7 linked regions of the Homo sapiens genome follow. The protein of the gene in region 6 purifies or fractionates together with the protein of the main gene of each other region. This does not show direct contact. Each region holds a gene or a part of one and is shown on either strand. Other genes may lie near its edges.

Evidence for each region.
Region 1: the proteins of TMEM87A (region 6) and GNPTG purify together in Homo sapiens (co-immunoprecipitation; one large-scale study listed by IntAct). This does not show direct contact.
Region 2: the proteins of TMEM87A (region 6) and ARSK purify together in Homo sapiens (affinity purification with mass spectrometry; one large-scale study listed by BioGRID and IntAct). This does not show direct contact.
Region 3: the proteins of TMEM87A (region 6) and OAF purify together in Homo sapiens (affinity purification with mass spectrometry; one large-scale study listed by BioGRID and IntAct). This does not show direct contact.
Region 4: the proteins of TMEM87A (region 6) and LOXL2 purify together in Homo sapiens (affinity purification with mass spectrometry; one large-scale study listed by BioGRID and IntAct). This does not show direct contact.
Region 5: the proteins of TMEM87A (region 6) and PC purify together in Homo sapiens (affinity purification with mass spectrometry; one large-scale study listed by BioGRID and IntAct). This does not show direct contact.
Region 7: the proteins of TMEM87A (region 6) and TLL2 purify together in Homo sapiens (affinity purification with mass spectrometry; one large-scale study listed by BioGRID and IntAct). This does not show direct contact.

What each region holds. Positions count from the first base shown.
Region 1 is NC_000016.10:1,358,431-1,361,930, reverse strand, and holds part of GNPTG (N-acetylglucosamine-1-phosphotransferase subunit gamma precursor), read right to left. Parts: intron 189-3,500; coding exon 134-188; intron 60-133; coding exon 1-59. UniProt on the Homo sapiens protein: Non-catalytic subunit of the N-acetylglucosamine-1-phosphotransferase complex, an enzyme that catalyzes the formation of mannose 6-phosphate (M6P) markers on high mannose type oligosaccharides in the Golgi apparatus.
Region 2 is NC_000005.10:95,600,101-95,602,851, reverse strand, and holds part of ARSK (arylsulfatase K precursor), read right to left. Parts: intron 2,006-2,751; coding exon 1,781-2,005; intron 1-1,780. UniProt on the Homo sapiens protein: Catalyzes the hydrolysis of pseudosubstrates such as p-nitrocatechol sulfate and p-nitrophenyl sulfate. Catalyzes the hydrolysis of the 2-sulfate groups of the 2-O-sulfo-D-glucuronate residues of chondroitin sulfate, heparin and heparitin sulfate.
Region 3 is NC_000011.10:120,221,032-120,224,531, forward strand, and holds part of OAF (out at first protein homolog precursor), read left to right. Parts: intron 1-3,500.
Region 4 is NC_000008.11:23,366,121-23,369,620, forward strand, and holds part of LOXL2 (lysyl oxidase homolog 2 precursor), read right to left. Parts: intron 2,315-3,500; 5' UTR 2,232-2,314; coding exon 1,877-2,231; intron 6-1,876; exon of another isoform or gene 1-5. UniProt on the Homo sapiens protein: Mediates the post-translational oxidative deamination of lysine residues on target proteins leading to the formation of deaminated lysine (allysine).
Region 5 is NC_000011.10:66,864,384-66,867,883, reverse strand, and holds part of PC (pyruvate carboxylase, mitochondrial precursor), read left to right. Parts: intron 1-1,534; coding exon 1,535-1,697; intron 1,698-3,500. UniProt on the Homo sapiens protein: Pyruvate carboxylase catalyzes a 2-step reaction, involving the ATP-dependent carboxylation of the covalently attached biotin in the first step and the transfer of the carboxyl group to pyruvate in the second.
Region 6 is NC_000015.10:42,266,934-42,270,433, forward strand, and holds part of TMEM87A (transmembrane protein 87A isoform 1 precursor), read right to left. Parts: intron 1,100-3,500; coding exon 1,014-1,099; intron 1-1,013. UniProt on the Homo sapiens protein: Potential monoatomic ion channel gated by mechanical force, implicated in normal touch sensitivity through the generation of mechanically activated currents.
Region 7 is NC_000010.11:96,395,427-96,398,926, reverse strand, and holds part of TLL2 (tolloid-like protein 2 precursor), read left to right. Parts: intron 1-1,624; coding exon 1,625-1,741; intron 1,742-2,906; coding exon 2,907-3,052; intron 3,053-3,500. UniProt on the Homo sapiens protein: Protease which specifically processes pro-lysyl oxidase. Required for the embryonic development. Predominant protease, which in the development, influences dorsal-ventral patterning and skeletogenesis.

The sequences.
Region 1 (3,500 bases), on a different chromosome or scaffold from region 6:
AGCGGAAGGTCTGCTCGTGCTGGGTCACGTTGTGGAACGGGCAGAACTCATACTTGTACCTGGGGACACAGATGGCATGAGGGGGGTCCGCAGGCTGCGCCCCAGCCCACCCTCGCACCCACCCTGCACTCACGTGGACTCCACCAGGCTGAAGCACTTGCCCGAGAGTCGGAAGAGATGCACGGGTCCTGGAAGAGACCTCACACTGATCCCCAGGGTCCAAGCACAGAACCTGTCTGCAAAGACTGGCAGAGTCTGTTTTCAAAGGACCAGTTTTCTTTTTTTTTGAGATGGAGTCTCACTCTGTCACCCAGGCTGGAGTGCAGTGGCATGATCTTGGCTCACTTCAAGCTCCGCCTCCCATGTTCACGCCATTCTCCTGCCTCAGCCTCCCAAGTAGCTGGGACTACAGGCGCCCGCCACCATGCCCGGCTAATTTTTTGTATTTTTAGTAGAGACGGGGTTTCACCGCGTTAGCCAGGATGGTCTCGATCTCCTGACCTCGTGATCCACCCACCTCGGCCTCCCAAAGTGCTGGGATTACAGGTTTGAGCCACCGCGCCCGGCCAAGGACCAGTTTTCAACAAAAAGCACAAGACGTTCAAAGAAACAGGAAAACAGGTACCATTCAATGGAAGAAACTGACAAAACCGAGAATTCTAAAAATAGCCCTTCAAAAATTAGAGTTAAGGCTTGCTATCGTGGCTCATGCCTGTAATCCCAGCACTTTGGGAGGCCAAGGCGGGAAGATTGCTTGAGGCCAGGAGTATGACACCAGCCTGGGCAACACTGTGAGAACCCCGTGTCTACACAAAAAGCACACAGAAAAAATGAGCTGAGTGTAGTGGCGCGCACCTGTAATCCCAGCTACTCAGGAGGCTGAGGCAGGAGAATCTCTTGAACCCAGGAGGTGGAGAGTGCAGTGAGCTGAGATCGTACCACTGCACTCCAGCCTGCGTGACAGAGCAAGACCCTGTCTTCCCCACCCCCCAAAAAAGAGGACATTCCCAGATAAAAGCTTCAGGAGTTGGTTACATGCAGGCCGGTGTGCCACCCGGGGAAGTGAGCAGACAGCAGCTCAGCGGAGGCAGACGGAGGTCCTCGTGCAGGGTGAATTAATACCAGTTGCCTTTCTAGCTATGGTCTGTAAAGCTACAGGACTTAAACCAGTGGTCCCCAATCTTTTTGGCACCAGGGACTGGTTTCATGGAAGGCAGTTTTTCTACCAGCCGGGGGTGGGGATGGGTGGTTTGGGGATGAAACTGTTCCACCTCAGCTCATCAGGCATTAGATTCTTTTTTTTCTTTTGGAGACAGTCTCACTCTGTCACCCAAGGTGAAATGCAGTGGCGCGATCTCGGCTCACTGCAACCTCCGCCTCCTGGGTTCAAGTGATTCCCCTGCCTCAGCCTCCCGAGTAGCTGGGATCCCACGTGCCCGCCACCACGCCCAGCTAATTTTTGTATCTTCAGCAGAGGCGGGGTTTCACTGTGTTGGCCAGGCTGGTCTGCAACTGTGGACCTGAAGTGATCCGTCCACCTTGGCCTCCCAAGTGCTGGGATTACAGGTGTGAGCCACTATGCCCGGCCTGAAAGACTAACTTCAGATTTAAAGACATAAACAGGTTGAAAGTGAAGGTATGGAAAAGTATTCATATAAACAGGCAAAAGAGAGCTGAAGTGGCTGAAACTATTTTAAGAGACAAAGATGTTATACATTGATAAAAGGGTCAATGTGCCAAGACACCACAATTATCCACGCACAAACAGTGCCACCCACTACATAAAGCTGACATGAGACATCCATACGCCACTTTTTTTTTTTTGAGACGGAGTCTAGCATTGTCGCCAGGCTGGATTGCAGTGGCACGATCTTGGCTCACTACAATCTCCACCACTGGGTTCAACCGATTTTCCCGCCTCAGTCTCCCCAGTAGCTAGGATTACCGGTGCCTGCCATCACGGCTGGCTAATTTTTGTATTTTTGTAGAGACGGGGTTTCTCCATGTTGGCCAGGATGGTCTCAAACTCCTGACCTCAGGTGATCCACCTGCCTCAGCCTCCTAAAGTACTGGGATTACAGGCGTGAGCCCCAGCGCCCAGCCTGATGGATTCAATATTTTTAAGATGACAATACCACCCAGAGTGATCTGCAGATTCAATGCAACCCCATCAAAACCCCAATGACAGTTTTTGCAGAAATAGAAAAACACATCCTAAAGTTCATAGGGAGTCTCAGAGGACCCCAAATCATCGAACAAATCTTAAAGACAGAGTTGAGAGACTCGTACATACTGATTCCAAAAATTACTTCAAAGCTGTTATGATCAAAACAGTGTGATACTGGCATAAAGACTGGCATAGAGGCCGGGCGCAGGGTCTCACGCCTGTAATCCCAGTGCTTTGGGAGGCCGAGGCAGACGGATCACGAAGTCAGGAGATCGAGACCATCCTGGCCAACATGGTGAAACCTGATCTCTAATAAAGTACAAAAAAATTAGCCAGGCGTGATGGCGGATGCCTGCAGTCCCAGCTACTCGGGAGGCTGAGGCAGGAGAATTCCTTGAGCCTGGGAGGTGGAGAGGTTGCCGTGAGCCAAGATCGTGCTACTGCACTCCAGCCTGGGCTACAGAGTTAGACTCTATATGGAAAAAAAAACAAACCCATCAAGGGAGTGAAAAGACAACCCACAGAATGGGAGAAAATAAACACTGGCAAACCACGTATGTAAGAGACTCACATCCAGAACACAGAACTACAGCCCAACAATAAACTCAAGTTAAAAATGGGCAGAGAAGCCGGGAATCCCAGCACTTCGGGAGGCCGAGGCAGGCGGATCATGAGGTCAGGAGTTTGAGACCAGCCTGGCCAACATGGTGAAACCCCGTCTCTACTAAATAAAAATGAGCCAGGTGTGGTGGCTCACGCCTGTAATCCCAGCTACTTGAGAGGCTGAGGCAGGAGAATCGCCTGAGCCTGGGAGGCAGAGCTTGCAGTGAGCCAAGATGGCGCCACTGTACTCCAGTCTGGGCCACAGAGTGAGACTCCATCTCAAAAAAAAAAAAGGACAAACACCATAAGCAACTGAAAAGATCCCACATGACTGATCATTAGGGAAATGCAAATTAAAACAACCCTAAGGTACCGCTTCACACCCACTAGGATGGCTGTTAGCAAAAAACAGTGTTGGTGAAAATGTGGAGAAACTGGACCCCTCGTGCAATGCTGGCTGGAATGGGAAACGGTGCAGCCACTATGCAAACAGTTTGGTGGTTCCTCAAAAAGCTAAACATGGAATTCTAATAAGATCCAGCAAAGCTACTCTCAGAAATTGGAAGCAGAGACTCAAATATTTACACCCAAGTTCACAGCAGCCTATTCCCAGGCAGAGGGTGGAAGCCACTCCAGTGTCCATGGACAGATGACGGGTAAACAACAACGTGGTCTGTCCTTGCAGTGGAACAGTCCTCAGCCATATAAAAAGGAAGCACTGAGAGCCTCC
Region 2 (2,751 bases), on a different chromosome or scaffold from region 6:
CTACAAATTCTTTATATAGACAAGTCATGTTCCTGCAACTTTACTTAGTCCTAGTTTTCTTTATATATTAGTATCTTATGCTTGGAGTTTTGAAAGTTACATTCATCAGTACTGTCCATTTGAACAAACAGCCATGGAAATACAAACTTCTCAATCACTGCCAGCAAGAAAATAATGATAAATATTTCAGATCCATAAAGATACTTTTTAGATATGGTATGGGAAGACAGGGATATAACTAGTATACCAATCTAACTGGAAGAACAGCAAGTCAGAGATCTTATGACAATTAACTTCAGATAGTAAATGAACACTGTATGTTGAGGGAAAAACCTCTATGGGCCTACTTAAGTGCAGTAGCCAAGAGGCCCCTGAAGAGATATGTGACTTTGCTAGGTAATTTCCAGATGGTACATCTTTAGGAAAGGGAAATCAATAAGCCCTAAAAAGTACAGAAAAGGCTGATTCCCCACTTCTGACATTTTGATAGTCACATCAGTTTTTTGGTAGAACATGGTATAAAAAACAAAATTTCAACAAATTTAAAGAACAAATTGGCTTTTATTTAGTGATTCCTGAATTGGGCAGCAACCCCTCTAAAGATTTAGAAAAGGCATTCTGATGAGCTGAGCAGGGGAGGTGGGCTTTATAGGCAGAAAAAGGCTGATGAAAAAGTCCCAGAAACATGGAACAAAAAGCAGATTCGTCATTATAGTGTTACTTTCTTTGTCCAGTAAAAACAGAGGAGACTTCCTTATGCTGGTTCAGGTAAAATGAGCCCCTTCGGATTGGTTATTGTGATTCTCTTTTTTTTTTCTTCTAAAGTTCAGTTTGATTATGGGGCACCTACTGCCAGTGACCCCATTCTGGTTTGATGTGGTCTGTTGAGCCTGGTGTAGGAACTCAGTTCAAAACAATGGCCTCCCATAAATTTCATTTGACAATGGCCAATGAACAAGCAAGAGATGCCCATTACTCATCAGGATGAAAATGTAAAGACTTCCTTTTTCAGCCAAGAATCCTCCACTCTTCAAGTGAAGGGGGTTGGCCAGTTTGGCCCCCAAAGTATTATTTTGATAATAATTTTGCTATTTGTAACTGGGAAGGAGCCTTAGGGAGAAATAAATATTACTTATGGCTTTAGCACATATTTTATGTACTAAATGGGGACAAAGGATGAGTAAAACCCTGAATCTAAAAATGCTGCTTAAAAATTAATTCATAGAGTAGTGAAGCTGGCAGACATTTTTTAGAAGCTGTAAGAAGCATCAATTTTACAGTCACAGCTTCGTTGAAATCTCAGTTCTGCTACTTCTTAGCTGTGAGACCTCACACAGGTATCCAAATTTCTCTCATAGACTCCTCTGTAAAATGAGGATAATGGTACTATCTTGTGGGGTTGTGGTGAACATTAAATAATACATGTAAAATGTCAGGCTTCATAAGATAGGTGTTAATCCTTCAGAACAATGAGGTACAATGAGGTGTTGACTTCAAATTGGGAAAGATAACCATGAGTACTGAAAGATGCCCTGATCAGAGAAAACTGGTTTCAGTCATGAGACCCAGATCAAAAGCCTTAGGACACTTTCTCTGAAATTCAGCTGCTGATCTGCAAAGAGGCTGTTCCTCACATGGGCAACCTTTTGTAGATCGTCCTAGCATGAGAAGCAGCAGATATTCATTTATTTAACAAGGATTATTGGATATCTTGAGCAATGCTACATAGGGCAGTTCATTACACATAATATTACACTTAAAAATATATTAACAAACTTACCAAAGAGTTGAGGCAATATTGATGCACCATCCGAATAGGCTATATATTTCCAGTGGTTAGTTCGAAGCATGTAGGTGGAGGCATTCACATTACATCCATGGAATTCACTCAGAATCCAGGGTGGATGCAGGTTTTTGACTTTATGTTCATTCTTAAATGTTTCTGATGATAACGGCAACAAAGAGTATCCACTCAGGTTCTGAGGCAGAGGAATTCCAGCAATATCTATGTAACAAAAATAACCAAATATCTTAAAATAGCTCATTCTTTTATTAGCTGAACATTCACAAATAGCATCATTCACATTTTTTTCATACCATTAAATGCCATGGAGACTGGAGATTGTATATGGATTTTGTAAACAGGCTGCCAAAATTCACATGCTTACCCCACTGGCCATGTGGACTTCAGCAAGTAATTTACTTATCTCAACCTCAGTTTTCTCATCTGTAAGAAGGGGATGACCACAGTACTTGTATTTATTAGGTTCATTTTAGGTTTAAATAAGATACTTTATGTAAAATTCTAAGAACTCTGAGGACAATGCCTGGCAGATAGGAGCCTTCAACAAATAGTTAATATCACTATTCCTTTTTTCTCTAAATGATTAAATAATCATAGTTGTTTCTCAAAGTTTCTTTCATGGGATATTAACAAGTCTTATACAAGAAAGGGGTTTAGTAGTCTTATATGTTTGCAAAACAATGGTTAAACAAAATTAAATACATAAGTTTGTTGTAGATGTAAATTTATTGCTGATGTATATGATAAACCTTCAGGAGTGGTATATAGTATACTATGTGCCCCAAAGTTATGTGATAACAGAGCTTTTTACATTCTCAAGTAGCATCTTGAGGGACTAGCATCTTGAAAAACATGCTTTCAGGAATTGTGGATTATATTTAGGAAGGGAAAAATAATTTTTAACTTACCAAATGTAGACATATAGAACAACAGCATGAGAAATGTTC
Region 3 (3,500 bases), on a different chromosome or scaffold from region 6:
CCCTCACTGTGCGAAGTCTTCCCTCCCTCATGCCACCCCCAGCCCCAACCTTAAGGGGACAACGAGCACTCCCTCATCCACCCTTTACCTCCATTGCACTTGGAGTAAACCTCAATCCTAGGCCTATTGTTTGCTGACTTGAGTTGTCAGAAGTCAGCCTCCTCCACCATCCCCTGGAAAACAGGAATCTGTGTCTTGGCCAAGGCCACTCCCCTGCCCAGGTGTTTGTGAAGGCCCTGCCCCATGTCCTGCTAATCAGTGCTCTCCCACTGATTGGCTGATTACTTGCAAGCCCCAGAGGAGTCACCTGACCTGTCTAGGCCATAGGTACATCTAGAAGAGAACAATCTCAACTCCTGGGTCTTCAGGAGTGGAGTAGATTTCAGGTGGAGCAAGGCAGACATAGAGCCAGGAATTGCAGCCACAAGAGAGAAACTGAAAGTTCAGCCCACTGTGTTCTGAAACCTTTCACTCATTTATTCCCTGCAACAGTCCCTTGAGGTAGATACTATCATTTTATTCAGCTTGCCAATGTGGAAACTATGGTACAGAGAGGTTAAGTAAATCCCTTCAAGGTTATGTGGCCAGCAGAGGCAAAGCCAGGATCTGAACATGGGTAACACTGGCTCCAGAGCCTTTGTTCTTAAATTCTGTGCTATCCTAGAGCCTACCTACTCCTTACTTAAAACTACAGACGAGGACCCTAGCAAACACTATTTCCCCAGGGTACTTGCCACACCCTCTGCGTGGCCCAGATCCTGGCCCTGGATGTAGTATGCTCCAGTTCTTCCAGGTAGGCTGGAGATTCCTGGAAGCTTGTGGGAGAAGGAGCCTTATAACAACCTCCCGTCTTGGGGACCCTATCCTGGGTCCTGAGCCTCAGGAGCCTGCCTGCAGTCCCTGTTGTAGGCTCTTCCCCAGCTAAGCATCTGCTTTAGGTGTTAGGCCACATGAAGTACGTCATCCCAACAGATTCCTGGGCAAGGAGGAAGGCTGGGAGTCAGGCTTCCATCTGGCCTGGGCTTAGCATCTGAGGGGACTTTCACCCTTCCCTGTGAAGGTTGGAAGAAGAGGGGGCCCCAGAACCTTGCCAGGGAGTCTGAGGTGCAAGGAGTGGAAAGCGGGAGGGACACTGGTCAGGATGATGGAGTCCTGTTACCAAATAGACCCAGAAAGTAGGGCTGCCCACTCCTTCTCAGGGATCAGCAAGTGGAATGTGCTTTTCTGGGGAAATAGGACGAAAGGGCCGGGCGCAGTGGCTCACACCTGTAATCCCAGCACTTTGGGAGGCCAAGGCAGGCGGATCACCTGAGGTCAGGAGTTCGATACCAGCCTGGGCAACCTGGTGAAACCCAGTCTTTACAAAATACAAAAATTAGCCGGGCATGGTGGCACATGCCTGTAATCCCAGCTACTCCAGAGGCTGAGGCCGGAGAATTGCTTGAGCCTGGGAGGCGGAAGTTGCAGTGAGCCGAGATTGCACCACTGCACTCCAGCCTGGGTGACGGAATAAGACTCGGTCTCCAAAAGAAAAAAAAAAAAACAACCATGCACACAAAGGAGAGACCGGAGAATTTGTAGTTTAAAAAGTCCTGGCAGAGGCCGGGTGCAGTGGCTCACGCCTGTAATCCCAACACTTTGGGAGGCCGAGGCAGGCAGATCACAAGCTTAGGAGATCAAGACCATCCTGGCCAACATGGAGAAACCCTGTCTCTACTAAAAATACAAAAATTAGCTGGGTGTGGTGGCCCATGCCTGTAGTCCCAGCTACTCAGGAGGCTGAGGCAGGAGAATCGCTTGAACCCGGTAGGTGGAGGTTGCAGTGAGCCGAGATCGCGCCATTGCACTCCACCCTGGTGACAGAGTGAGACTCTGTCTCAAAAAACAAAACAAAACAAAAAACAAAAAAAGAAGTCCTGGCAGGGCAGGCAGGCGGGTTAGAAGGGTATTCCTGCCTCCTCTTCTCTTATTTGTGTCATGCTGTTTGGTAGTTGCAGGAACCACGAGCCAGAGCCGCCACATTCGAAGGCAGGTGTGCTGACTTAAGGCAGGCTGCCGCCAGATGGGCATGATGGGGAGCGGGTCCTAATCCCACCTCTGCTGCTGGCCAGCTCAGGCATCAAGGGCAGACCGCACAACCTCTGTGTGCCCGAGTTCCAGCTTCTTTAGCTGAGCATCAAGGAGATGAGACTAGCTGATCCAGGAGGCAATTATGGATTCTGGTTAAGAGAGCTCAGGCTTTGAAGTCAGACTGTCTGGATTAAGATCCTGGCTATGTTTCCTCTTAGTCCATGACGTTGAACAGGTTACCTAATCCAAGCTCGGTAACAATCATAGCTCCTACCGCCTGTTGTAAGGATTTTAAAAAGGATCATACATCCTTTTGACCCATGGAAACAATGTTTTTTCTCTTCTAGTTACAAATTTCAGTAACTCTTTTTCCTATACAAATAGGAGATACAGAGGAAATCCTCTCAGTGAGAAATTATCATTCCCTTCCTGCACCCCCTGTCAGTTCCCATTTTGACAGCATTTTGTTATTGTCATTGATGACATTATTAATATAGAAGCAGGAAAAAAGCTCAAATAGATTTCTTTCATCCTCTAGTCTGGTCTGAAAGTTCAAATACCTTCTTTTGCCAACGGTAGTCAGGTGATGTCACCAAGCAAAGAGACCCCTGAGCAGCCCTGAGACTTCCGGATATTTCCTGCACCTGCGGTATTGGAGAAGATGCTGTGAATATCCAGATAGGCTTCTCTCCAAAGAGTCAGAGCTGAAAATACCAGGGAAGTGGTTTTTGGATCCTTCCTGGGGGATCCTGCCAGGGACATGGCCTGGCTCAAGCTCTAGCAGGGGAAGTCTGGTATCAAGTCTCACCTGGCAGGAATTGAGCCCAGAATGGAATATGCTACAGGCAGAGCAGCCTCCCATCTCTCCTCAGCCGACCTGAGTGAGGGGAAGATCAGATAGCCCAGGCTGGCAGGACAAGGAGATTGCAGCACCATGACCAAGAAGGGATTTCCTGTTGAGAGGAAGCAGGGGTTGGCTGAGCTCTGATCACCTTCTTCACAAATCTCTGGGATCATAAGGAACCTAATGGAACCTTCCTCAACAGCTGAGCCTCAGTTTCCCTTTCTGGAAAACCTCCCCCTATACTTCCATACCTCATCGTTCCAGAGATGATTTACAATAATGGCAAGTAAGAGAAACTCTGTAGAGTTAAAGGACTGCAGAAATACATGGGCATTTATGAGATGACATGCACTCGTTTGTTGCAGACCACCTACGATGCTTGCTGGTCACCTACAAGAGTAATCCCAGCTAGCGCTGACCCCATGTGAGAATCTTCAGATAACTTACTTAGTCCTCACCACAACCCTGTCACATAACTGGGATCATCCCCATTTTACACATCAGAGAAATTAGGGGAAAGCCTGGAGGACTCACTAATACATTGCAGCTTCGGGGCGGAGCTGTGAGTCCCTTGCCGCATGTATTG
Region 4 (3,500 bases), on a different chromosome or scaffold from region 6:
AAATACCCAGTCACTGGAAAGCATTTGTTATAAAATAATGAGCGTTGGAAAGCCTGGAATGGAAAACATGAATCTGAGGTTACCCCTGGATCGCTCAGCCAGCCGGATAAACAGAGATGTGGAAGTATCGGACGTTTGTTTAAAGAAGACAGGAAGTGGGTTCTAAAGCCCAGCATTTGCTAACTTCACTGCTGTGGCTCTCATCGCCCAGAGCAAGCTGCAGAGAACATTTGACTCTGTGCTGTCTCCTGATCCAGTTACCCCAAAAGGAAATTTTCAATTGCATGGAGGTGAGATGTGTATGAGATGGGACTTCCTTTCTCCTATAATTTCTAGAATAACAGAAAAGTTGGAAGGGAGGATAACAGTTATCAATTTCAATGACTCCCAAACCTGTCACTTTGCAGACTTCCAAAAGAGACAGAGTCCTGGGCTCCAGCCCAGACCTTTTAAACTAGATTATGGTGGGTTGAGGTCTGCGCTATTCTGTACTTTTAAGCTCCCTTGGGCGATTCTTACGCAGTCAGCATGGCATTAGCCCTTTAGTCCAGGACAGGAGTATAGGCAGCTCTGCTTTAGTCCAGTAGCCAGACTTGTGCTGAGGTCTGGGCTGCAGCTCAGCCGGGCGGGAGGGTGTGGGAGCTTCCTTTGCCTGGCTGACCCAGAGATAGGAAACTCTTAGCTCCTGGAAAAATGTTTAAAAAGAAACAATTCCCTCCACCCTTATCTCTTTCCTATTTGGGAACATACACTGTCAGGGTTTCAGGGGTTCTTAGCCCAACTTCCAGATGGGGAAAATGAGGCTGGAGAGGACATGCGTCTTCCTACAAAGTGTGGTGTCAGAGGTCAGTACAGACTGAGCTCTAGGTTCAGGGCTTCAAACTTTGTCCTGCCTCAAAGCTGTTAAAGCAATTTTTTGGGTTTTTGTTTTGTTTTTTGTTTTTTTGAGATGGAGTCTCGCTCTGTCACCCAGGCTGGAGTGCAGTGGCGCGATCACGGCTCACTGCAGCCTCCGCCTCCCGGGTTCAAGCGATTTTTGTGCCTTAGCCTCCTGAGTAGCTGGGACTACAGACACTCGCCACCATGCCCGGCTAATTTTTGTATTTTTAGTAGAGATGGGGTTTCCCCATGTTGGCCAGGCTGGTCTCGAACTCCTGACCTCAAGTGATCATCCCGCCTCCGTCTCCCAAAGTGCTGGGATTACAGGTATGAGCCACTGCGCCTGGCCAGCTCTTAAAACAATTTTTAAAAATAAACTAATAAATTTGAACCTCACAAGGGAGGAAAGAATAGGCTAACCAACGGTGAAAAACCCAAAGCATCTGTGTGCCTATTGTGACCAAGCCCACAATAGCAGGTTAGTGTGAAAACGATGAACTCCACATGCCAGGAAGGTGGGGGGCGTCAGGGAGCTCCAGCATGTGGGAGCCATTGTGAGGAAGAGCAAGAGGCTTTCCTAACAGGGAACGATTTGGAGTAAAGCGCAACTTCCTCTGGGCTGACGCAGCCCCCAGGCAGGGCATATGGGGCGGAGAGAGGAGCACAGGCCGATTTCACCCCCTACCTGGGGTCACCAACTGTCCTGGTTTTCCTGAGGTTTTCCCAGGATGTGAGACTTTCTGTGCTAAAGCCAGGAAAGTCTTGGGCAAATCAGTATGGTTGGTCACTTACTGTGCCCCTCCTCAAGCCCCCCGACCCCGCCTTCCTGCAGGGTGCAGCCTGAGTGGGCACAGAAGGATGCCAGTCCCTGGATGGGCATCACCAAGAATTTACACTTCGCAGTGCGTGCAGCCTCCTCTCCCAGGCTGACCTCAGGGAAGGCCACTCCGGGCCTTGCCAGGTGACAGCACTCAGATCCAAAGCACAGAGCGTTTACCTTCTCCCTTGCCGTAGGAGGAGCTGGCAGTCCAGGACTTGGCCTCCACGTAGCCCAGCTCCCGGCAGACGACGTGGGCAGCGTGGATGGAGAAGTCGTCATCGCACACGGTGCCCCACTGGCCATCATAGTACACCTCCACCCGGCCCTCGCTGTGCTTCCTCTTCTGCCCAGCCAGGCGCAGCTGAATCTTGGCCACGTTGGCGGGGGCCTGGGGCTGGTGATACTCAGGAGCCGGTTGCTGGAAGTACTCGGGGTAATGGGGCCAGCTGTCATACTGTGCCAGGCTCAGGGGGGACAGGAGGGCCAGCATAGCCAGGCAGCTGCAGAGGTGGGAGCACAGAGGCCTCTCCATCCCTGTCTTCGGGCTGATGATCCCACGAAGGGGCCCTGCGCAGCTGGGAGGGACAGGCGGGGTACAGAAGCAGCAGGAGCTTTCTGGAAGAGAGGAGAGATGCGTTAGGATGGGAACGTGGGGCTACGGAGACCTACATAGAGAACCAGCGATTTCATACCCCTTGGCTTAATATGGAAAGCTCGTCCATTCTCGACGCCAATCCAGCCCCACTCCTACATTTCCACCATGCAGGGCTGGGAGGTCCCACCTCCTTTACCTACTGCCTTGTCATCTCTCTAGAATGCTTTTTCCAGTAGAGTTCCTGGCAGGGAACAGAACACACTCCAACTTAATTTAAGGAGAGTTTTTTAAGACTACGGACATGCCGGCAGAGTTCTGCAGAACTAACAAAGGCCGGTGTCACACCCTAGGGCTGGCGACTCAGAGGGGGCTGTGACCACCCTAGGCTTGAAGGGAGCCTGCGGGGGTGAGAACTGGAGACTGGCAGAGGGAGCTGTCTCTTAGGAGCTGTGGCCCTCACTGGAGGGTCTCAGAGCCAACCCATGGCAACGGCGGGGACATGGGAGGGAGAATAAATACCTGACTCCCTTTCCTCCCGTCTTTGAATCATTCTGGTGCCTCCTATTAGGCAAACCCAGCCCCCTTCAACTCGAAGCCACTGGCAAGGGAGCTGAGCCCATTGAGGGAGCCCGTGTGGGACAGCCTCCTGGAACATGGGGGCCGGTGGAGAAGGAGCGGGTCTGAAGGGGTGAGGGCAGGATGTTCAACACACCCACCCTCCATTAAATGAATGGCACCCCAAAACACTACAGGAACATTTGCTAGATGAATTATAATTTTCCCGTCAGCTTTGAGGGCTGCAATGCTAAATGAGTTTTAAAATCCTCAAGGTCCTGGTCATCGTATCTGGTGGAGCCTACCTCTAAGAATTCCCGAGTGAAATCATGTAGCAAGAGACCTCGTGTATCTTGGTCCTCCCGTAATTCAGAGAAAAGAGGAGACGATTTTAAAAGGAGCACACGTGTGTCTTGTGGAGAAACATGCAGGGCCCCAAACCAGGATGAGCAGGTGGAAGCTTAGGTGGGGGCATAAGGTATTTTATTTTAACCCTATGCAGAGGAGTAGGCTAATCATATTCTTCTGGTCATGGCACACTACCTTTGAGGAAGGACTGGCTAACTTTCCTGTAGTCAGAGCTGTCCAGAGCTGCCCATGGAGGGATGATCTGCCTTGGAGTGAGGCAGTTCCATGTCTGTTGGGTGACCA
Region 5 (3,500 bases), on a different chromosome or scaffold from region 6:
GGGGTGGCTGCTGTGGCTCGCCGGGGGCATGGAGGCCCCTCCCTCCCCTTAGGAGAAGCTTAGAGACAAGGCCAACACTTTGGCCGAGTGAGACTCTTCCCCTCAAGCTGCTGTGAACTCCTCGGTCTTGGGTCTGCTTAGAGCGTCCTGTTAGGGATGGGAGTCTGTCTGCTGTGGAGCACGGGTTTTGTGTCAGACAGATTGGGGCTCAGGTGCTCTCAGGTCCCAAGCCACGTGGAGCCTGGGTGAGCTCCAACCTCTCTGACCCTCGAGCTCCTCCTCTGGTGGGAATGACAGGGCTCTCAGCACACCGTCGTGGAGATGAAGCATGGGAGGAGTGCAGCCTGGCCTGTGGCACTGAGTGGAAGCTGTCATCTCTGCTGCGAAGTGGGCCAGCAGGCAGCAAGAACACGGGGAAATCCTGCCAGTGTAGGTTCCAGGCTGCCTTCACCACAAGCCTCAGTGGCAATACATGTAAAACCTTGAGTGGTTTTTTTTAAGACATAGTCTTGCTCTGTCACCCAGGCTGGAGTGCAGTGGTGCAATCTTTGCTCACTGCAACTTCTGCCTCCCGGGTTCAAGTGATTCTCCTGCCTCAGCCTCCTGAGTAGCTGGGATTACAGGCACACACTACCAGGCCTGGCTAATTTTTGTATTTTTAGTAGAGACAGGGTTTCACCATGTTGGCCAGGCTAGTCTCGAACTCCTGGCCTCGTGGGATTCACCCACTTTGGCCTCCCAAAGTGCTGGGATTACAGGCATGACCTGCTGTGCCCAGCCTGGTTTTTTTGTTTGTTTGTTTTGTTTTTTAAACAGCTGTTCCACTTGGACTTGTGACTGCCCTTAGGAGCAGTAAGGCTGAGCTTGGAAAACCCTGCAGAGGTGGGGAAGCTTGCACTCTCCAAGCATCTCTAGGGGGTTTTGGGCACAAGTCCAGCAGGAAAACAGGCCTCAGAAGGACAGGTCCTGACCCAGCACCCACTGTGCAACCCTCTCACAGCTGTGGTTACCATTTCGAGGAGCCCAGCCTTCACAGCACCTGTTCCCTTGCACACTGCCCCCCTCACAACCACCCACACAGCATAGCACATATGGCCCCAAGAATGTGCTATCCTGGCCCTCTGACCTAGAGATCTGCTGAGGCTTCAAATCTAGGCTTTACCAAGGGGGAGTTTAGGGGAGTGGGGAAAACAGACCTCAAGGAAGGAGGAGGCAGAGTACAGGGAGGAGCAGCTTAGGGCTGTGTGGACGGCACCGTGAGTCAGGAATGCAGGAGCAGGTGGTCCTGGTATTTCAGCGGGCCATCTCCAGCTGCCAGGCACTGTGTAGTTTAGTCGGCTCCCGGCGGGAGCAGGGCAGGGGCTGGTGGAGCCACTGGTTGGGAGGAACCGGCTGTTCAGGCTGGCCCAGAGCCTATGGGCAGGAGTCGCACTGTGTGTGGACGCCCCACTGGCTGCGGTGCCCCTCGTCTATCCCCCGCCTCATGTTTCCCCCTTTCTCCCGTCCTTTCCCCCCTCCCCCCAATGCCCTACAGCGTAGACCTGGTCCATGCTCAGATCCACGTGGCTGAGGGCAGGAGCCTACCCGACCTGGGCCTGCGGCAGGAGAACATCCGCATCAACGGGTGTGCCATCCAGTGCCGGGTCACCACCGAGGACCCCGCGCGCAGCTTCCAGCCGGACACCGGCCGCATTGAGGTGGGCGGAGCTCGAGCAGAGGGAGATGCCAGCTCACCTGTGCACAGGTTCTGCCTGGTGCCTGGGGCTGCAGTGCCAAGTTGCCACAGCCCGGCAGTTAGGGAGGACCCGCATGTGGGCTCTGAAGTGGACATAGAGTACACGGAGGCAGGCAGTGCCCAGAGGAGGGGCGGCGCCTCCCAGGGGAAGAGACTGCTGGGCGCCCAGGTCAGGAGGAAGCCGTGAGGGTGGGAGCGGGGAGCAGGCTGGCTTGGTGGAGCAAAACGCAGGGACCCAGACACAAAGCCAGCCCCTGACCCTCCAGCTCCCACAGGAGCCCCACGCCTGGCTGCCGACGGAGCCCAAGCACCACCTCCCATCTGAGGGATGGGCTGACATGGCAGGACCTGGGGGTGGGGGTGGCAAAGGACTGGGCCCAGAGGTCCCAATGGAGTCTGAGCCAAGCTCAGGGGCCCATCAAGGATGGGGGAGGGAGTCGGAGATGGCGGCACAGGAGGGAGACCGAGAGGTAGATTCGGGGCCGCGAGATGGCAGCCTTGGTGGGGGAGAGAGTGGTGTAGGGGGCGCTGAGGCGGTCCACGGCAGGCTCCTCAGCACAGCAAGACTCGCGCCTTCTCCAGGAGGGCTCCCTGTACCTTTCTTCCTCTCAGCACCGGGACCCAGTCATTGGCCTCCGAAACCCATCTCCCCCGCCTCTGGTCCCAGCTGTGGGCAGGAGCCCTGCGGCCTGCTCGGTGCCTGTTCCCAGCCCTGCACGTGCTGCCAGCACCGTGCCAGCTGTGCTAGGGACTTGCTCCCTATCCAGGGGCCTGAGCCCCAAAGGAGGCAAGACATTGATGGAGCTCCAGCTTTGCTCCAGAGTCCAAGGCAGAGGCCCCCGGGCTTGTGTGGGGCGGTGAGGGGAGCAAACATGAGTTTGGGCCAGGCTCTGGGCTTCTGAGACAAGGGAGGCTGGGGAGGCTGGGGGTAGGGACCAGAGCTCTCTGGATTCTGGAAGCAGCAGAGCCTGTGGCTTCAGCAGGGAGCTGGCCACCTGCCTTCTGTTTCTGGAAGAGTCTGTAGGTGGCGGCAGCCCCAGGCTGAGTGCTGCCCGGCGGCCCCTGACTTCTCTGCCTCCCTCCATCCCCACTTCCAAGCCCTGGCTCTTCAGAGCCTGCCTCATCACAGAGTATTTTTAGCCGACAGTTTCTGCTCTCAGCTGAGTGTTCACCCTTAAATATTTTATGAAGTTCCTTTTTATTGAACACAGGCCTCTGCCCCCGAGAAGCGGAAATGGGCAGTGGGTGTCCCGAGCCCCTCTGGGCGGTCCCCCCACTCCCCTTCTTCCTTACCTGGGCCTGACGGGTCCCCCACCTCCGGGGAGCCCTTCTCTGCGGGGCTCACTCGGGCGGCACGAACAGGTGCAGGCGGCACGAGCCACCTGTGTGTGTGAGTGTCGGCGCCTCTGTCTCCTCCTCTCCGCTGCCCCTCCCATTGCCGTCTGGCCCTGGCCCTGTCCCGCTGCCCCGCTGCCCTCTCCTCGCCCTTGGTTTGCTTCCCTGATGGGTGTGGACCCTGCCTCTGGCACTTTCCCTTCATTTCCTCTCCCACTTCCTCCTCGTTGCCTCCTCTCCCTCCCATCCTCCCTTCTGGAAGGAAAGGAAAGGAAAGGAAGGGAGCATGGGTGGATGTTGAGGCCTTCCCCACCACCCTGTTAAAAACAAAAACAAACCCCCGGTCAGCCTTGCCTCTTGCCTCGCACATGGTCCTTTGGAGGCCCTGTCGCCGGCCTGCCGTCCCCTCGCTGTCTGGGAGCCCACGGCG
Region 6 (3,500 bases):
TCAGACTTGGTTATTTGAGAGTTATTTCTCTGGAAATGGGCAACAGAGGCTGTCCCCTCAAGGAAGACAACTGACAGTATTCACTGCCAAAATAAAATTTGAGATTTCAAGCAAAAACTGGAATTTTGAAGAACTTGTATCTGCTACACTGAATTTAACGGCTTCCAAAACTTAAGAACCTACTGATGAGATGAAGAGGGCAGGGTATAGTTATAAACAATGTAATTTTTAGCTAAGTGTGAAATGAGTTAATATTTATAAAAATGTATATAATTCAGTCAACTGCTATTTTCTAAATGACCAATAAATGATGCTACAAGATCACACACAGGTAAAAGATACATTCATATCAGTGGATTTCTTATCAGAGTACAAAAAAAGTTCATTAATATTTCAGATTCCACATTGCAACTAACCTTTAAAAACTTCCACTTGTTGAGTTTTGGTATAGAATCAAAAAAGAATATCCTCAGTTATCTGAAAAGGCCATTAAAATACCATTCCTTTTCCCAACTATATATCTGTATGAGGTCATTATTTTCTACATGTACTTAAGCCAAATTATTGCAACAGACTGAGTGAAGGAGGGAATATAAGAATACAGTGATCTTCTGTTATGCCAGATAGTAAACAAATTTACAAAAATACAAAACAATCCTACTCTTCTGTGTGGTTTTCTGGGAAAAACAGTTATTTATATTAACATGCAATAAGTTTATTATTGCTACTTTAAAATAAACTAATAAATATTTTTATATTTTCTCAGTTGTAATTTCTAATAGCATAACCCACATGCTCAAAGGCTTTCTGGAGTCCACAATAATTTTTACAAATATAAGAGTTCTGAAACCAAAAAGTTTGAGAATTGGTGGTCTGCAAATTGGGAAGCATGCATTCTAGTTTCAGCTCTCCTCCTCCATAGCTACATGATACTCTTTCCTCTATGAAATTAAGAGACTGGAACCAGATAATCACTAAGGTCCAAAAAAACTCTGTAATTTTATGTTCCTTACCTTGAAGTTATAGATTTCATTGTAACAATCAGCGCTTTTCAGATACCAGGTTATATTCAAAGACAGGTCACAAGGTTCTCCATCAACTACAAAAGAAGAAATCTTTGTTAACAAAAGATAATTCCCCAACAAAGCATTTTTCCTAAGCTGTTAACCTATATCCTATTCATTTCGTACCCTAAACTGAGATACTCAAAGACCATCCTTTCTCCAAACATAAGGTATTGAAATAATACATGCAAAAAGAGCTGGATATTAAGATAAAAGTATTGTTGTTCATAGAAAAATAGCAGGTAAGCAGTTTTTAACCTCTGGAAACTGTGGATCTATTTTTATGCCATAAAGTCCTAACTTCTGGATCTCTATTGAGAAAAACCTGGGAGTGATAAAGCACTCTAAATTCAAGCCAGTCTTCTATTATTTAAGTATTTATTGAGCAGGCTAGGTGCGGTAGCTCACACCTATAACCCCAGAAGTTTGGGAGGCCAAGGCAGGGGGATCGCTTGAGCCCAGGAGCTCAAGACCACCCTAGGCAACATAGTGAGAACTCATCTCTACAAAAAATGATTAAAAAGCTAGGCGTGGTGGTACATGCTTGTAGTCCCAGCTACTCAGGCAAGGGAGGCAGGAGGATCACTTGAGCCCAGGAGGTCAAGTCTGCAGTGAGCCATGATGGTACCACTGCACTCCAGCCTGGGCGACAGAGCGAGACCCTGTCTCAAAAAACATAAATAAATAAATAAATAAATAAATAGCACAAGTATTACAAAGGTATAATGGCACACTGTTAGGCTAAAGAGGGAAACGAGTGGAAACAAATTATTAAGACCCTTCAAAAGGCTAGTTGAAGAGACAAGCAATAATAAAATTAGGAATGCATGTCACAAGGCAATATTAACAACTGTTAAATGGTGTTAAATGATGATATACATAATAGTTCCACTGAGAGCAAAATTGCTATCTCAGACCTTGAAAGATATCAAGATAGAACAGAAAGAGCAATGAACGAAAAGCAAACATGGCTGTGGAAGGTAGAAATAGCAAAAGCAAAGATAAGAGTATCAGATTTTTTTTTTCAAAGCCTACCTTAAAAGAGGCCTCAAGGAAGCTCATGTTATCATGGAAGCTTCATAAAGCTCATTAAACACAGTTTGGAACACAGTATTCTAATGGATCAAGACATTATTCTGAAGACTTGGGAGGGTAAATCTGACTATATGACTGATTAGCTGGAGGAAGTCAGTATTCGCTTTTATCTTTGATTCTAGCTATGAAAGGAAAAATATACTAAAGACTCCCTACTTTATATAAATGTAATAATAAACATGACAAAAATAAACATGACTGCATTTAGGAATCTACTTTTCATTCATAACAAAAGAAGCAACCTAATTATAAGCTTCCTTTTTTTTTCTTTTAAACTGTTTTCTCAAACTAATTTTTAGATGACCAACACATTTTCAAAGGACTCTATTAGAATGTTCAAAAATTTGACCTGTTGGATAGAATTTATGGAAATGATAAAAAGCAATTGGGCTATGAACTATTCAAAATAATCCATACAGGGACAGGATTAACTAATAAAAAGCCAGTAAGAACACATCCCCCAAACAGGAGACTTGTAAGGAAATTTGGCAGCAAAAATACTGCTGTTTATGTTACAAGACAATATTTAGAACTTTAAATGAAAGGCTTTAAGAGACAATAAGGTCGGGCGCGGTGGCTCACGCCTGTAATCCCAGCACTTTGGGAGGCCGAGGCGGGTGGATCATGAGGTCAGGAGATCGAGACCATCCTGGCTAACAAGGTGAAACCCCGTCTCTACTAAAAATACAAAAAATTAGCCGGGCGCGGTGGCGGGCGCCTGTAGTCCCAGCTACTCGGGAGGCTGAGGCAGGAGAATGGCGTGAACCTGGGAAGCGGAGCTTGCAGTGAGCCGAGATTGCGCCACTGCAATCCGCAGTCCGGCCTGGGCGACAGAGCGAGACTCCGTCTCAAAAAAAAAAAAAAAAAAAAAAATGGTCCCAGCTATTCCATGGAAAGCTATATACCATCCCCCAAAAAGTACAAAATCAAAGACAACTGGTAAATATGAGAAAGCACAGAAATAACAAAGAAAAAGATAATGTTAAAGTGTCTCAGGCCGGGCACGGTGGCTCACACCTGTAATCCCAGAACTGTGGGAGGCCAAGGCAGGCAGATAACTTGAGGTCGGGAGTTCGAGACCAGCCTGGCCAATATGGTGAAACCCCCACCTCTGCTAAAAATACAAAAATTAGCCGGCGTGGTGGCACGCGCCTATAGTCCCAGCTACTCGGGAGGCTGAGGCAGAAGAATCGCTTGAACCCAGGAAGCAGAGGTTACAGTGAGCCGAGATCGTGCCACTGCATTCCAGCCTGGGCGTCACAGCAAAACTCCGTCTCAAAAAACAACAACAAAAAATAAAGTGCCTCAAATCCTCCAAAAACAATGAAATATAAACACTTC
Region 7 (3,500 bases), on a different chromosome or scaffold from region 6:
GTGTTCCAGCCTGGGTGACAGAGCAAGACTCTGTCTCAAAAAAAAAAAAAAAAAAAAAGAATATTTTCATCACTCCAAAAGAAGACCCATATTCATTAGCAGCCACTTCCCATTCCCCATTGCCCCCCAAAGCTAAATACATTCTCCAAGTGACTCATGCAATAGGTGCTTGGTAGAACCATGGTCTTCCAGTCCAAATAGACCGTGGCTGGCCTGTGTTCTGAACCATTCAGTAAAGATGAACCCATCTCCCACCTCGCCCTGGGCTGCCATCCTGACGTGGCAGTAGGGATTAGATGGCCAAGAATGACCAGGTACTGGGAAGACCAGGCCTCTGTGGAGGCTCCAGATTTCAGACCATGCACCCAAGTGTCTAAGAAAATACAAATGTATTAATTTTTTTTCTCGATAACAAAAGTTTGTCTATGATGATCCCCCTTTCCATCAGGTAGTAGGGACTTGATTTTGGTCAATTTGTGTTTTCAGTTTTGGTCAATTTGTATGTCCTGGTTGGGGGCATAGTTTATGCCAAGGCATGGTGGTGGCGGGGGGCATCTATCCTGCCACCCTGACTGGCATTGCTGGGATGTTCTCATCCCTAACCAATGAGTCCTCTATCCAGATACAGGCTACTGGGCTTCCTCCTTTTATCAACCCTAGGCCAGTTCAGAATGGTGCAGGTCTACATTCCCCTAGAAGCTTGGGAGACATTCTATGGCTCCCCTAATCCTCTCAGCTGTGGGAAAGTCACTTCCATCCCCCTCTTGGGCCTGGAATCATGTTGCTGCCATCCTGCCACACTTTGCCTGAAGAGCTCTGCATGCCTGTCTCAGGGCCAAATGTCTGGACAATCACATAGACACTTCTATGCTGACCTTGGCGGGTGGGCACAACAGGGGAATCCAGGGTCTTGCTGCCACTCTGGACTCTGCCCAAGGACTGAGGACACAGTTTTCTGCTTCTCTTAGATTCTTAAACCTACCTGGGATCTCTTTCTCAAGGTGAGATGGGGAATGGGTCCTTTTAGGGGCTCCCTGCTGCTCTCCCGCTAGTCCTGTCACTCCTCCATCCTAGGAACCCTCCTACGGCTACCAGGATGGGGAAAATATGGTGCATCCTTCCAAATCTTTGCTATTGCAACTAGGCTTGTGAAATGTAAACGCCAAGATGGTTTTATTTCTTTGCTGTGTTTTCCCTGGCATCCCTTCCCAAGTCAAGGAAAGCAGATGTCTAATGCCCCCAAAAGGGAAGGGTATACATGCAACAGGAAACACCAGGAAAGGAAATCTGCTCTATTCTCTCACCATTCTTCCCCTGCCTCACCTTCAGAGCCTCAGCAACACCCCTCGGCAGGGGAGAGGCTGCCTGGGCTCTTCTCTGGATACTTTGATGGGAATTTGGAATTCTCCTGAAGTCAGCCTGAAAAAGAATTAAGTCACACATTATTGTGTGACTCTTCCAATCCCATCTTTTGATCCTGTGTGTGCTACAGGATAAGTTGTCCCAGCCAGGGTTATTGCTCACTTCAAACCACGTGTGAAGAACCTCAGCTTCCTCCTAGCCTGAAGCCAGTGCCTTCTTGCTGTCCCCAGGGCTCCTAACTGCTTCTTTTTCCACTTTCCAGGCAGGTTTTGTGGCGATAAGATCCCGGAGCCCCTCGTCTCCACGGACAGCCGGCTCTGGGTGGAGTTCCGCAGCAGCAGCAACATCTTGGGCAAGGGCTTCTTTGCAGCGTACGAAGGTTTGTGCGAGGTGAAAGCAGCTGCTCGGTGGCCCCTCATAAGCTCTGTCCTTCCCAGGCAGCCCACTGTCCCTCTCCCAGCCCAGACACTCCAGGCCAGAGCCACAGGGGTGGGGGCAGCCACCACAGGGGGCAAGCTGAGGATTCCACAGCCCCTCCTGCAACATTCTGGAAGCAGAGGCCAGCTGTGCCCACTTCAGAAGTAGTGCCATCCTTCTGACGCCATCCCACTCAACCCTCATTCCAGGCCAGCTGAGGAGTCGGCTTCCCCCATACAGGACGGTATTGGGGGGATCTAGAACCCTGTGGAAATGATAGCAGCCTCTGAATTGCTGTGTGAGCCTAAGCAAAGAATCTGACCTCTCTAGGCCTCTGTTTGTTTCCTTTGTGAAAAGAAGACTTTGGGCAACATCAAGGAATTTCCAACTGCGTTTCTTAGAAGGGCCTCTGAGGCTACCCTGGTGGCTGAGTAGAGGGAACCAATAGGTCTGGGCTCTAGGCAGCTGCCACCAGGTGATGGTGCTTCTATTTCTTCTATGTCTTGAGCTTCTCTGGCTCATTCCCCACCCCACCGTACCCTCTACCAAAAAAAAAAAAAAAAAAAGAAAGGGGAAAACTACCAGAAAATTACCAAGGGTCCTTTGGCCTTACATTACCAAGGGTCCTTCGGCCTTAAATTATTACAATTTTAGAGAGGCCAAAGTTTTGTCTTTGTAAAATAAGTAATGTGCATGTGTGCGCATGTGTGCACGTGTGCGCGCACGGGTCCTTTCCTACCAGCGGTCCTGTACTCTCTACCTTGAATCACCTGGGGAACTTCACGGCTACGCAGCGCTCCCCAACACCCACTGGAATCAGAACCTCTGGGGAGTGTGGCCCCAGCTTCCACAGTTTGCAAACTCCCTCAGGCGATTTTGATGCACAGCGAAGTTAGAGAACCACTGCTTTATGTGGTTTTTTCTTTATATGAAAAAAATTCAGAGTTAAAGACAAATGCAATCGTGCCTTTCTGGAGGCGCGGTGTTTGTGGGCTGGAGATGAAAATGTTGGTGAGCGGAGCCACCTAGTGGTGGCAAGCGCTGTTCCCCCCGCCTCCCCAACCTTCCTTCCTAAGTAAGATCTGACCAGGGCCCCCGTCTTCCTCTCCTGATGTCTCTTTCTAAAGCTACCTGCGGGGGAGACATGAACAAAGATGCCGGTCAGATTCAATCTCCCAACTATCCGGATGACTACAGACCTTCCAAGGAATGTGTCTGGAGGATTACGGTTTCAGAGGGGTTTCACGTGGGACTTACCTTCCAAGCTTTTGAGGTGAGTGCTGCTCAGACCGGCTTCCCAAGGAAACGGCAACTTTTGCTAGACATCCTCCACTCTGTAAAGATGGGTTTTCATTTTTGGCTAAAAACAGGAACCTAAGAGGCTATTCTCAAGCCCATAGTGAATTGTGCCCGGACATCTGACATCAACATCTATGCAGGCTTTGAAATGGGGTTTGACACCTTTCTGAGGGCAGTAAGAGAGGTTGAGAATAATAATCAAAGTGAAAATTCAGGATGGGATCCAGGGAAGTTTGGTAGAATTGTTCTTCTCTATTTATCCTCTTAGACTCTTCTCAGTTTGATTCACCCTTGACTTCTGCAAGTAAGGAGTGAACTAGGAAGCAGCATGGAGAGACCTGGGACACACTTGGGTCCTTTGGCCTCTTGGTTAGATTTTGAGAGTGATATTTGGGTTCTCTTCTTAAATCAAAAACCTTAAA